Linked DNA regions of Homo sapiens: region 1 is linked to region 2. Evidence: fine-mapped expression QTL. A gene starts in region 2. The other region holds a variant in brackets. All regions are shown on one strand. Distances are from middle to middle.

Region 1 (5,367 bases), 46 kb before region 2:
AATTTACCAACCCAAAAGGGTGGTGAGAGGGGGCCTGTGAGGTGGGGACAGAGACTCGGGGACTCAGCTCCACAGGGCACAGAAACTATCTTTCAGGGGCCTCATGATGAGCTCGCTCAGCCTCCCAATAGCCCGGAAAGGGGGACAGGGTAGGGAGGGTTCTACAGATCTGGAAACAATGGCTCACACAGCAAGGACTTGCCAAGGAAAAGCAGCTCCACATGACATTCACATTACAACTGACTCCGTTCAATTACAAAGTCCTTTCCACCCAACGACAGACGTGGGGCAGTCACAGACGCTTGAGAAACCTTCAAACGTTTTCATGGTCTCAGATCCCACTGGTAGAGAGCGAGGGAGGGAGGGAAGGAGGGTGTTAGAATCCAAGCCAGCAACTGGCAGAGACGCAGAAGAGGCCGCCCAGCTGCGCCTCCCTTCCTGGGTCCTGGCTTTGGGCCAGGCATGGACGCCTACAGGGGTTCTCAGCAATCAGGGTATGGGTTACCCCGATTATTGCCATTTTACTGACAAGGAAAGTAGATCTTGGGAAAGTCAAGGTCCCATAACTAGTAAAATACGGAGCTAGGATGTGATTCCTCCTTGTTTAGTTAAGAATTCAAAATAAACACCCATCACTAATCAGCCCAATCATGACTTCCAGGTCCTCAACTGCAACAGAGGACACGAAGTTTGGAAGGAGGTGACAAACTCAGGGTGAGGACAGGGATTCCAGTCAGGGCCTCTAGGAGCATAGGTGGTGGCTGGGAGGTTATCAATAGGCCACAGCGGGTGGAGGATGGGTAGCCCACAATGGAGGGGGTGATCCCAATGAGGTCCTCAAGCATTCAGAGCCTGGGGACCCCTTTTCTAAAAGAAAACTTAGCAGACCTCCTCCTTTCGTGGGTGGCTGTACTTTCAGACAGAGAAAAACACATTCAGCACAGCTTTTCAATTCGTTTGCATTTTAGGAAGCCCAGTGGATCCTGAGCAAAACTGAAGAAGTGGAGGATATATGAGCAGGACACCTATTTGGTCTCCATCAGTATCTCCCAAAGTGAGTCCTGCAGTTTAGACGTTCACAGGTCACACATGAATCAAGCAAAGGTCAAGGAGGTGGAGGAGTCGTGAAGTTAAGGGAAGCTAAGCAGGTGTCTTTTCCTACCGGACTTCTCAGAGTCTTGACTCTGCTAATGTACTGTGAGATTCTCCAAGGGGAGGGGACAGAGCGCTCAGTATCTGTTCCCCCACACCCCACACTGGCCCCAGGATGCTCTCTGGGAAATGTCGCTGGAGTGATACTGGGCTCCAGGACCCCTTTCACAGTGACTCCTACCCCACCAGGCCAAGGCGGGCGGGCAGGGGCCGGGGGGTCCTGGTCTGGGGTCTAGGGCAGGGGCCCTGTGACTACTAGGAACCACTGACTTCGAATAAGCCTGGCAAGGTTCTAGCCTCAAGGGTTAAAATCTGACACACCTGAGTGAAGAGAATCTGGTACCTTGGTTAGAAACAGCAAGGTGAGCAAAGTCCCGCACAGGTCCCAGGAGGTGCGGGCAGGGTCTACCCTCCTCCAGCCGCCAAGCCCCATCCACCCCATCCCGCCCAGCACTGTGCAGGAAAAGCACTCTGTGCGCAATCACCTTTTTGCCTTTTATTGCAAGGTCTATTGTCCCTGAAGAGCCTCATATAATGTGAGCTAAGAGATGCCCAGCATTCAATTTCATTATGCCCCTCCTTCCACCTCTGGTTTCTCCTCTAGAAATATCCCCACACATCTACAAAAAGCCTGTGAAAAAGATGCAGAACATCAAAGGCAAAAATCAGCCTGGGAGCTCCTCCAGGAAACAGCTCCTATCTTGTTCATCTGCGTCCCAGGCACAGCGTCCCTCTCCTTAAGGATACCCAGGCAGAGCTCAGAAAAAAATGTGCATTCTTTATTCCACAAAAGTGGGGAAGGAGCATTTACCAGGAGTTTGCTTGGTATCAGAAACAAAGGAGAATGTGAATAACTGTCATCTTACTGGGTCCCCTAGCAGGGCCCAGGGAGGCGGCCTTCAAGCTGAGGTTGAGAGCACTGACTAGGGAGCCAGGCTGTTGGGTACACTCCTGACTCCCATTCCGATCTGCGGTGTGACCTTGGGCAGGTTACTTAACCTCTCTGGGCTTCAGCTTACTCAACTGTAAAAGAAAACTTTTTAGGAGGATAGCACTGAGCAAAGCACGTTAAGGAGCTGGGATAGTCCCTGGGATGCAGAAAGCCCAGGACACATCAGCTCTACTGTTGTTCCCATTTCACAGGAGGAAAAATCGAACATAGGGCAGCCTGGCCGACCGTCACGATGGGCGCTAATAACAGCAAGGCTGGGCTCACTCCCAGGCATGCCCAGTGCAAAGCACCTTCTACTGACTCTGCCTCCCAAAGACAAGACAGAATATCTAGTGGTGACCAGGGGAAAGCCAGGCACCGGCCACGATCAGCTACTTAGAGGGGAAACACAGAACCGAAGACCACTAACGAGAAACCCATGGCCGGGCGCGGTGGCTCATGCCTGTAATCCCAGCATTTTGGGAGGCCGAGGTGGGTGGATCACCTGAGGTCAGGAGTTCAAGACCAGCCTGGCCAACATGATGAAACCCCGTCTCTACTAAAAATACAAAAATTAGCCAGGCGCGGTGGCGGGAGCCTGTAATCCCAGCTACTTGGGAGGCTGAGGCAGGAGGATCACTTGAACCTGGGAGGCAGAGGTTGCAGTGAGCCAAGATCGCGCCATTGCACTCCAGCCTGGGTGACAAGAGCAAGACTCCATCTCAGAGAGAAAAAAAAAAGACAGAGAGAGAGAAACCCACAGTATCAGGTACCCCTATGAAAAAGAAAATCTTAATTGCAGCATGTGCCTGAGAATGTTCCAAATCCCATTCTTCTGGGCCCAATGATCTACTCGCCCCCAGCAGAGTGCTGGAAATTTCACTCCACAAGTCAGACCCTCATCCCTCTGGGGCCGCAGTGAGA[C/G]AACCTGGACCCCCTTGCCCATCGTCCTAACACCAACGTCCCCATCACCTTCCTGGGAAAAGTCAAGCAGCCACCCAGGGTCCATTCTTGCAAAACAAAATTCTGCCATAAAGCAGAAAAGAAAAGAAGGGCTGGCCTGGGTTTAGCTCCTGCTGAAAATGATACGAAAGCAACAGAACTCACTGGCGAGGAGGGTGCAGCTGGCGGCAGCTCTGCAGACCAGCACAGCCGGCGGACGTCGGAGGGCAGGCGGGCACACACCCCGTTCATATAGGGACGTGGCAGGGGCGCCACTATGACTTGCACTTCAAGGGAAAGCCTCTTTGGGGAGCCTTTGAGGAAGGTCACAGAGGGTCAGGCTGTGGAAGGACCGGGGTGTTTCCAGCGATAGCTCCTTGCTGACCACAGACCACTATTTCTGTCTTGACTCCCATCAGCCTCATGGGCCAGGGCAACTGCTCCCCAGGAAAACCCCCATGCACAAAGAAGGAAGGAAGGGCGCGCCCAGGCCCCTGGGCTGACTGAAGATGCACGTGGCTCAGAGCTAAACTGAACAACAGACATTGGCCTCCCACTGCCTTTGCTCTCTGGGCCCTGAGACAGGAGAAGTGATTGGGGGTCTGCAAGCTGGCACGGAGCTGGGTCTCCTCTGCCTGACCCCCGGCAAGAGGTGGCACCACTGTGGGCACGTGCCACCCCAGCTGCATCTCCCGTGTGCCGACTACGTCAGGAGGACCAAATGCTAACACATGGAACACTTGCCACCCCGTTTCCACGACAACAGAAATCAAATATCGGACACAGAAAGAAGAAGCTGAGGCTGCCCCGACACGGAGGCGGCAGGCTGCTCTCGGGAGCACTCACTTCCCCAAAGGAAGGTCCTTGAATGAGGGGAGAAGTAGGACTCGCATGATACCTACCTTGGCCGGCAACTTGCTCCCCCTTTCCTCGGCCTGAACCCTCTCCTGGTTTATAACACCAGGCCCAGCCCCTCCCTACCAGGTGACACAGGCGGGCTCTCTGTCTGGTCTGGGTTCCTCGTCGGTAAAAAGGGGTTATTAACAATGACCAGCCTCATGTGCTGCTGTGGGAATCCACAAATTTCAGTGGTTCCTGGCATCCAGGAAGCACGATTAGCTTTTATTTATTCCAATTACCAGTCCCCCAACTCCCTGTGGAAGCTCTTTCCTGAGGCTGGCTTCCTGGAGGTGTTGCTCGATTAACTGACAATCCCAGTTCTGCTGAAGCAGGAAGCGGTGAGGCCCACGGGAGGCCCATGTCCCGACCCAGCAGGTGCTCCAGGCGGGGCTCTGGGGCAGGCAGTGGACTGGGACATGCCTGGCCCACTCCCAGGGGCACTAGTGCCCCTCTCCCATTCGAGGCCAGGATCAACAGTGAGGGCTCACCCGCCGGTCACCCCTGTCCCCCAACACTCCACTCCCACGGCACAAACCAAGCTTCATCCAGAGTCAAAACTAGGACTTGAGGAAGCAACAAAAAGACACCCAATGCCGATGCGAGTCCCCAGCACTAATGCAGGTCCCCAGGGCTAATCCAGGTCCCCAATGCTGATCCAGGTCCCCAGCACTGATGTGGTCCCCAGCTCTGATGCAGTTCCCAACACTGGTTTTGGTTTAACAGTTTTCCTGCTGGGAGACTTGATGCAGGAATCCAAGGCCAGGACAGCAAACAGCACTTCATGGCCCAGGAGATGCCTCGACAGCCAAGTGAGGACATCATGAGGGCACAGACAGGAAGGCCCTCGCCAGCCCAGTGCTCCATGGAGAGGGCCTTTCCATCTGCCCAGTGTCCAGTGCCACCCACGAAGGAAGGCTGGGGCAAGGGAGGGTCTTCCTGACGTGTGTGTATCCACTGAGCTGGCCAAGGAGATGCCTGGGGCTGGTGGTCAGCCCCTTGGGGGAGGAGGCAGAAATAACAGAGGATCAGTCAGGAAAGGAAATGTGATTAGCTTTTAAAAGGAAAATAACTACGCACTTGAAAAATCATAAAAGGATCAGCAGCCTAGTAGTCACATCTTAGAGTCAGGTTTAGACCACTTCAATGTAATGCAACTAACTAACATTTCATTCACTCACCCTGTATGCATCGACTGCCTCCTACCTGCCAGGCAAGGGGATTTCACAATGCAAGCAAGGCAGCCAAGACCCAGCTCCTGACACGCCATTTTCAGAATAAATTAAAGGGGCCTGGCACAGTGGTTCACACCTGTACTCCCAGCACATTGGGAGGCCAAGGCAGGAGGACCGCTCGAGCCCAGGAGTTGGAGACCAGCCTAAGCAACATAGTGAGACCCTGTCTCTACAAAAACTTAGCCAGATACAATGGCACATACCTGTAGT
Region 2 (5,367 bases):
GCCCTGTCACTCCCTGGTAGGCAACCGAGCATAGCTCTGACGGCCCAAAGTCAGGGCCAGGGGCTGCTCCACCCTGGAGTGGCAGAAGCGCATGTTGCCAAGGCAAATGGGCTTGCGGAAATACCAGCGACTCTCAATTATTCAAGCCCTCATTATCCAGTCTTCCTGACTCTTCCACTTCCCAGGAGACCACACAGAAGCCGCTAAACCCTTCCCAATCCAGCCTGTCCCTCAATTCCTGTGCCTAGATCCAAGGAGGGTTTGTGGCCCTCTGTTTGCCAGGCACCCCAACCCTGAGAACCGAGGCAGGGCGCCCAGCTCACCCCCAGCGAAAGCAGCATCAGCAGTGCCCGGCGTCCTGCTCCTCCTCCTGCCTCCACGCCCGTTCTATTCAGCACAGGATGCTTCCTGCTACCGGAATTCTTGGTGCATTTGAATTAAACCAGGCTGGGCCTGAATTTTCTAGACACACATCAATTCATACAGGCAAGGAGGAGAAGCACTGCGTACTTTGGAATTTGGGCCCAGTCCATTACTTTGGGTGTGTGTTCTTCCTATTCCGAGAGCGTAAACGGCACCTAGAAAAAGCTGCAATAGCCCAGAACATTCCGGTTCCTTGCCATTCTATGAAAGACTTTTTCCTCTGGTTCCTTCTGGCCTCCACTCAAGTGTCCCCTCCTCAGAGGCCTCCCCTGGCTCTGATCGCCCTGTTCTATGTGCTCCGGGGCACGTCATCACAGCGCCAGTTGTCTATGTATTCATTCCCCGTTCCACGAAAGCAAGCACCCCGCCCCCGCTCTTTTCTTCCTGGGGTCTAAGCAGCACCTGGCCCATGGCGGGCGCTCCACAGGCTGTGGGCTGAATTGGGAGGGGAGCGTCACTTGCGTCTATAATCGTTGCAAGCCATAAAGAGGAACCGAAATGATTTCTGGTGAGGGTGCTGATGACTGCATGGAAGAACAGTGGGGATGATAGAAGGGTGACAGCCACTAATCATGTCATTTAGGAGACGTGACCAACACCGACCAATACAAGCTACAGTGGGTCCTCCAGTGTAAGGCTTGAGAGAAGAGTGACCTATCCGCCAGGAGACCTACTGAAGGGGACAAGACCCTGCCCTCTTGGAACAGGATCACGGGTGGGAAGACACGCATCCCTGGGGGCACAGGCATCCCTGGGAGAAAATGTCTGGGGAACCAAGCGTTCCCTGCACTGTACAAAAATCCTGGGGAGCAGGTGCATGGGGGCACACACATGCCTAGAGGCAAATCTGTCATATGTCTTCCCGGGGCACACACATCCCTAGGAATACAAGAGTCCCAGGGAAGAAATGAATGGGGGACCTGCATCCCGGGGTACACTAATCCCTGGAGGCACAGGAAGAGTTCCCAGGGGATATGTCAGGCCCAGGTGGTTTAAGGAAACCGTACTGCATACCCGCTATGGGAGGGCTCCTTCCCGGGGACCCACCTGAGGCCGGCCTTTCTCCATCTGCCTTTCCACAGCAGCTCCCCTCACCTCTCACCAATCCGAAATCTCACTATAGGGCATGGTCCCGGGGCAGAACCTCCCCACCCAAGCAGAAAATTCCAGAATGTATCTCCCAGGAGGCCCTGGGCAAGCGGTACACTTAAAGACACCAGACTATCCCTTGCAACTCTAACAATCTTTAAAACGTACGAGGTTGGTAGTGTTTCGTGAGCACACGCAGTAAAAAATTTAAAAAAAAAAATTTTTAATGGGATCTCTGCAATTCTTGCTCGCAGGCCTCCCAGGCCTCAGCCCTGCACGCCCTGAGCCCCGCACCCTGCAGGGCGCCCGCGCAACACCCAGTAGTGGGTCCCCCAGGCCGTGTCTGCCCAGAGTGCCCTGCACACGTGAGCGTCACTGCTCATGGAATGAACGGTCACCCCGCGCGGCTGGCTATGCCGCTGGCCCAGGGAAGAGCTGAACACCCGGCAGGCAGAGCAGGCGCGGGCCCCGCACGGTGGCCCGAGGTCCCCGCCGCGCAGGCGCCCGCACGCGCGTTTGGCAGACTCCGGAGGCCACCGCGGCCCCACGCGCCAGGTCCCGGCCGTTGTTTACGGGTCCTGGGTCAAAGGCCTGGCCTGTCCCGAAGGTCGCGCAGCCGCGTGGGCCGGGCGGGGTGCGTGGGGGAGGGCGGGGGCGGCCTCGTGGGGCTCTAGGGCCGAGGGCGGGCACCGCCGGGCAGGTCCCCGGGGGTCGGCGGGCGCGGGCGCGCACTCACCCTCGCGCGCCCTCCGCTTCCTGGCCAGGGTGCCGCCCAGCTTGCCCAGGAACGACTCGTCCTTCTTCATCCTGCGGGGCCGCGGGGTGGGCGAGCGCGGCGCGGAGGACATGGGCCGCGCGTGGGGCCGGCGGCGGGCGCAGCGCGTGTGGAGCCGCCCGGTCGCCCCGGGGAGAGGCCGAGGGCGCGGCCCCGCCGCCGGCCCCCGCCCCGGTCCCGCCCCCGCCCCTGGCCTGGAGCGCGGCCCCGGCGTCCCGGATGCCCGAGGCCTGCTGGTCCCGGCCAGAGCCGTCCCCGTCCCGCGCCGCCGCTCAAGCTCAGAGAAGGGGCGTGGGGCCACCCCGGGAGCGGCGCAGCCTTTTCCCTACGCGTTGGAGCCCTGGGCTCTGCTCGGCTCCGCTAGTGGTGCCGGATCCAGGCGACAGCGCGACAGACACCATTGCCACGTGGGTGCAGCCTCAGGACGTCCTGAAAGCCGGAGAGAATCAGGTCACACGAACGTGGCCGGTCTGTTGTTAAGCTTCTGCCAAGAGCCAGGCCCGGGGCAGGGGGAGCCCTTCAGAACTGGGAATTGTCCCTACCCACGGGAAGCTTAGAGGATGGAGGGCAATGCGGGGCACAGGTCATTGGCCTGACCTCCAAGGGGAGTTCCAGGAGTTGTTTCTGGAAGAGGCGACGGGGAGGCCCCAGGAAATGGCTTGCAGGCCGGTACCATGAGGTGAGCAGAAGAGCAGGCCCTGGGGACAGTGTGGGGTGCCAGGGAGGGGAGAGGAGGGGAGACAGGCCTCGCATGTGTTGGAAGCAGAGGAAACGGCTTCATCCCGAGGACTGCCAGACAGGGCTATTTTTATTTTATTTTATTTTATTTTATTTTATTTTATTTTATTTTATTTTATTTTATTTTATTTTATTTTGTTTTGTTTTATTTTATTTTATTTTTTTAGACGTAGTCTTGCTTTGTTGCCCAGGCTGGAGTGCAGTGGCACAATCTCGGCTCACTGCAACCTCCACCTCCTGAGTTAAAGCGATTCTCCTGTCTCAGCCTCCTGAGTAGCTGGGATTACAGGTGCACGCCACCACGACCGGGTAATTTTTGTATTTTTAGTAGAGATGCGGTTTTGCCATGTTGGCCAGGCTGGTCTCGAACCCCTGACCTCAGGTGATCCGCCTGCCTCGGCCTCCCAAAGTGCTGGGATTATAGGTGTGAGCCACCATGCCCAGCCTAGATACCCAGGCAGGGCTTTGAGCTGTGATGTCACAGATGTTGCCTCTGGCTGATGGCTGCTCAGCAGGTGCTGGAGACAGAGAAGGCACAGGCAGGCGGACGGTGACTTAGGAGAAAAGCAAACAGATTTCTGAGATGCTCACAGCCAGAAGCCCCAGCCTTGAAGAAGTAGGAGGAGTAGGCCAGGTGCAGTGGCTCGCACCTGTAATCCCAACACTTTGGGAGGCCAAAGCAGGCAGATCACCTGAGGTCAAGAGTTCAAGACCAGCCTGGCCAACATGGTGAAACCCCATCTCTACTAAAAATACAAAAATTATCGGGGCATGGTGGTGGATGCCTGTAATCCCTGCTACTTGGGAGGCTGAGGCACAAGGATCGCTTGAACTCGGGAGGTGGAAGTTGCAGTGGGCAGAGATCATGCTACTGCACTCCAGCCTGGGTGACAGAGCGAGACTCTGTCTCCAAAAATAAAAAAAAAATAAAAAATAAAAAAAAAGAAGTAGGAGGAGTGAAGGCTGGGTGTCCTGCCAGGCCATGGTGGATCACTCAGCAGAGGACGGCACCTGGGGAGAAGTGGGTTCAGCTCTGGGTGTGTGGGTTGAGATGGTTTTTCTGTCTCCCTTTGTGCTGGCTGCCCCCCAGTCCCCCCAGTGCAGTACATGTTTCTGTTGGTCAAGTTGGTGCCAGGCCCAGTCCTCAGCCAGGGGCGTGAAGACCAAGGGCACAGAGCTTTGTCCTCCAGGAGTTTGTGGTCAAGGAGAACGTGGGCACAGGACACAGTGGCCGTGTAGCGTGGCCAGCATGGAGGAGGGACAGGGACCATGTGGATGGGGTGGGGGAGAAGTGCTGTGGGCAGAGGAGGCTTGCAGGGAAGGGACATTTGACCTGGAACAAGGATCAAATGCCCTTTTCCTTTCAGTAAAGGAGGAGAAGACCCACCAGGCAGAAGAGACAGGGAGAGGACACTGGGGTGTCTTGGGGCTGCCAGCACAAAGTTCCATGAGCTGGAGGGCTCAGAACAACAGAAACGTCTTCTCTCACAGTTTGGAGAGAAATAACAAGGTCTACGGGAATTATGAGGCAGGCACGGTGGAGGAAAACCAATTGATAAATATCATCATCTCACAAGGGTCTTTGCAGATGATCAAGTGAAGATGAAGTCACCAGAGTGGGCTGTAATCCAAGATGACCGTGTCCTTGTAATACCCCTGTGTACTGGGGATTAGGATTTCAGCAGGAGGCCAGAAATCCAAATCAAGGTGTAGGCTAGGTTCATTTCCATTTGGAGGCTGCACGGGCAAATCTGTTCCCTGCATCTCTCCAGGCTCCTGGGGTTTGCCAGCAAATCTTCCATGTTCCTCGGCCTGTAGAAGCATTGCCCCGTCTCTGCCTCCGTCTCTACTAGGCCCTGTGTGTGTGTGTGTGTGTGTGTGTGTGTGTGTGTGTGTGTGTGTGTGTGTGTGTGTGAGTCTAGACTTTACAGGGACACAGTCATGTTGGATTAGAGCCCATCCTGGTGATTCATCTTCACCTCATCATCTGCAAAGACCCTGTGAGATGATGATATTTATGCATTGGTTTTCCTCCACCATGCCTGGCTCATAATTCCCATCACCCTTGTTATTTCCTCAGTGACTATAGCAATAAGCAGATCTTTTGTTACAATATTTGTTCTTTTTTCCTTGGTTCCTGAAGCAGTGTGGAAACAGCTTCAGAGCAATAAAGGGGAACGATAGTCCTGTGTTATCATGTTGGATCTTTGGAAGCAGGCTTCAGGTGTAGTTTCTCTCTCTTTCTGACCTTCTTTCTCCTTCCCTCCTTTCACCTGCTCCTTTTTCTCCCCAAGTCAGGCCATAGAAAATGAAAATATACTTGAATCTTCCCCCACCTTTCC

What was found. PIP is the estimated chance that this variant, and not a neighbour inherited with it, causes the effect. A credible set is the group of variants that fine-mapping cannot tell apart.
Region 1: its variant is the best candidate, but not a certain one, in a credible set for the expression of PARVB in whole blood (TOPMed, PIP 0.54).

Annotation. Positions count from the first base shown.
Region 1 is chr22:44,066,986-44,072,352 of GRCh38, reverse strand. The region is part of intron 1 of PARVB (parvin beta); the gene reads right to left. Among named protein-coding and RNA genes, the nearest start is that of PARVB, 45 kb to the right of the region's middle. RefSeq lists enhancers at 2,837-3,400, 3,433-3,572, 3,733-3,882, 3,965-4,528, 4,529-5,094. The variant C/G (reference allele first, on the strand shown) is at 3,008.
Region 2 is chr22:44,021,333-44,026,699 of GRCh38, reverse strand. PARVB (parvin beta) reads right to left here and starts at 2,398. Exons shown (of 13, transcript NM_013327.5): 1 at 2,249-2,398. The coding sequence starts at 2,360. It overlaps LOC124905131 (a long non-coding RNA gene), which reads left to right and starts at 3,925. Exons shown (of 2, transcript XR_007068125.1): 1 at 3,925-5,249. RefSeq lists enhancers at 131-240, 741-790, 861-910, 951-1,030, 1,041-1,120 and silencers at 1,891-2,100, 2,151-2,200, 2,271-2,390, 2,421-2,530.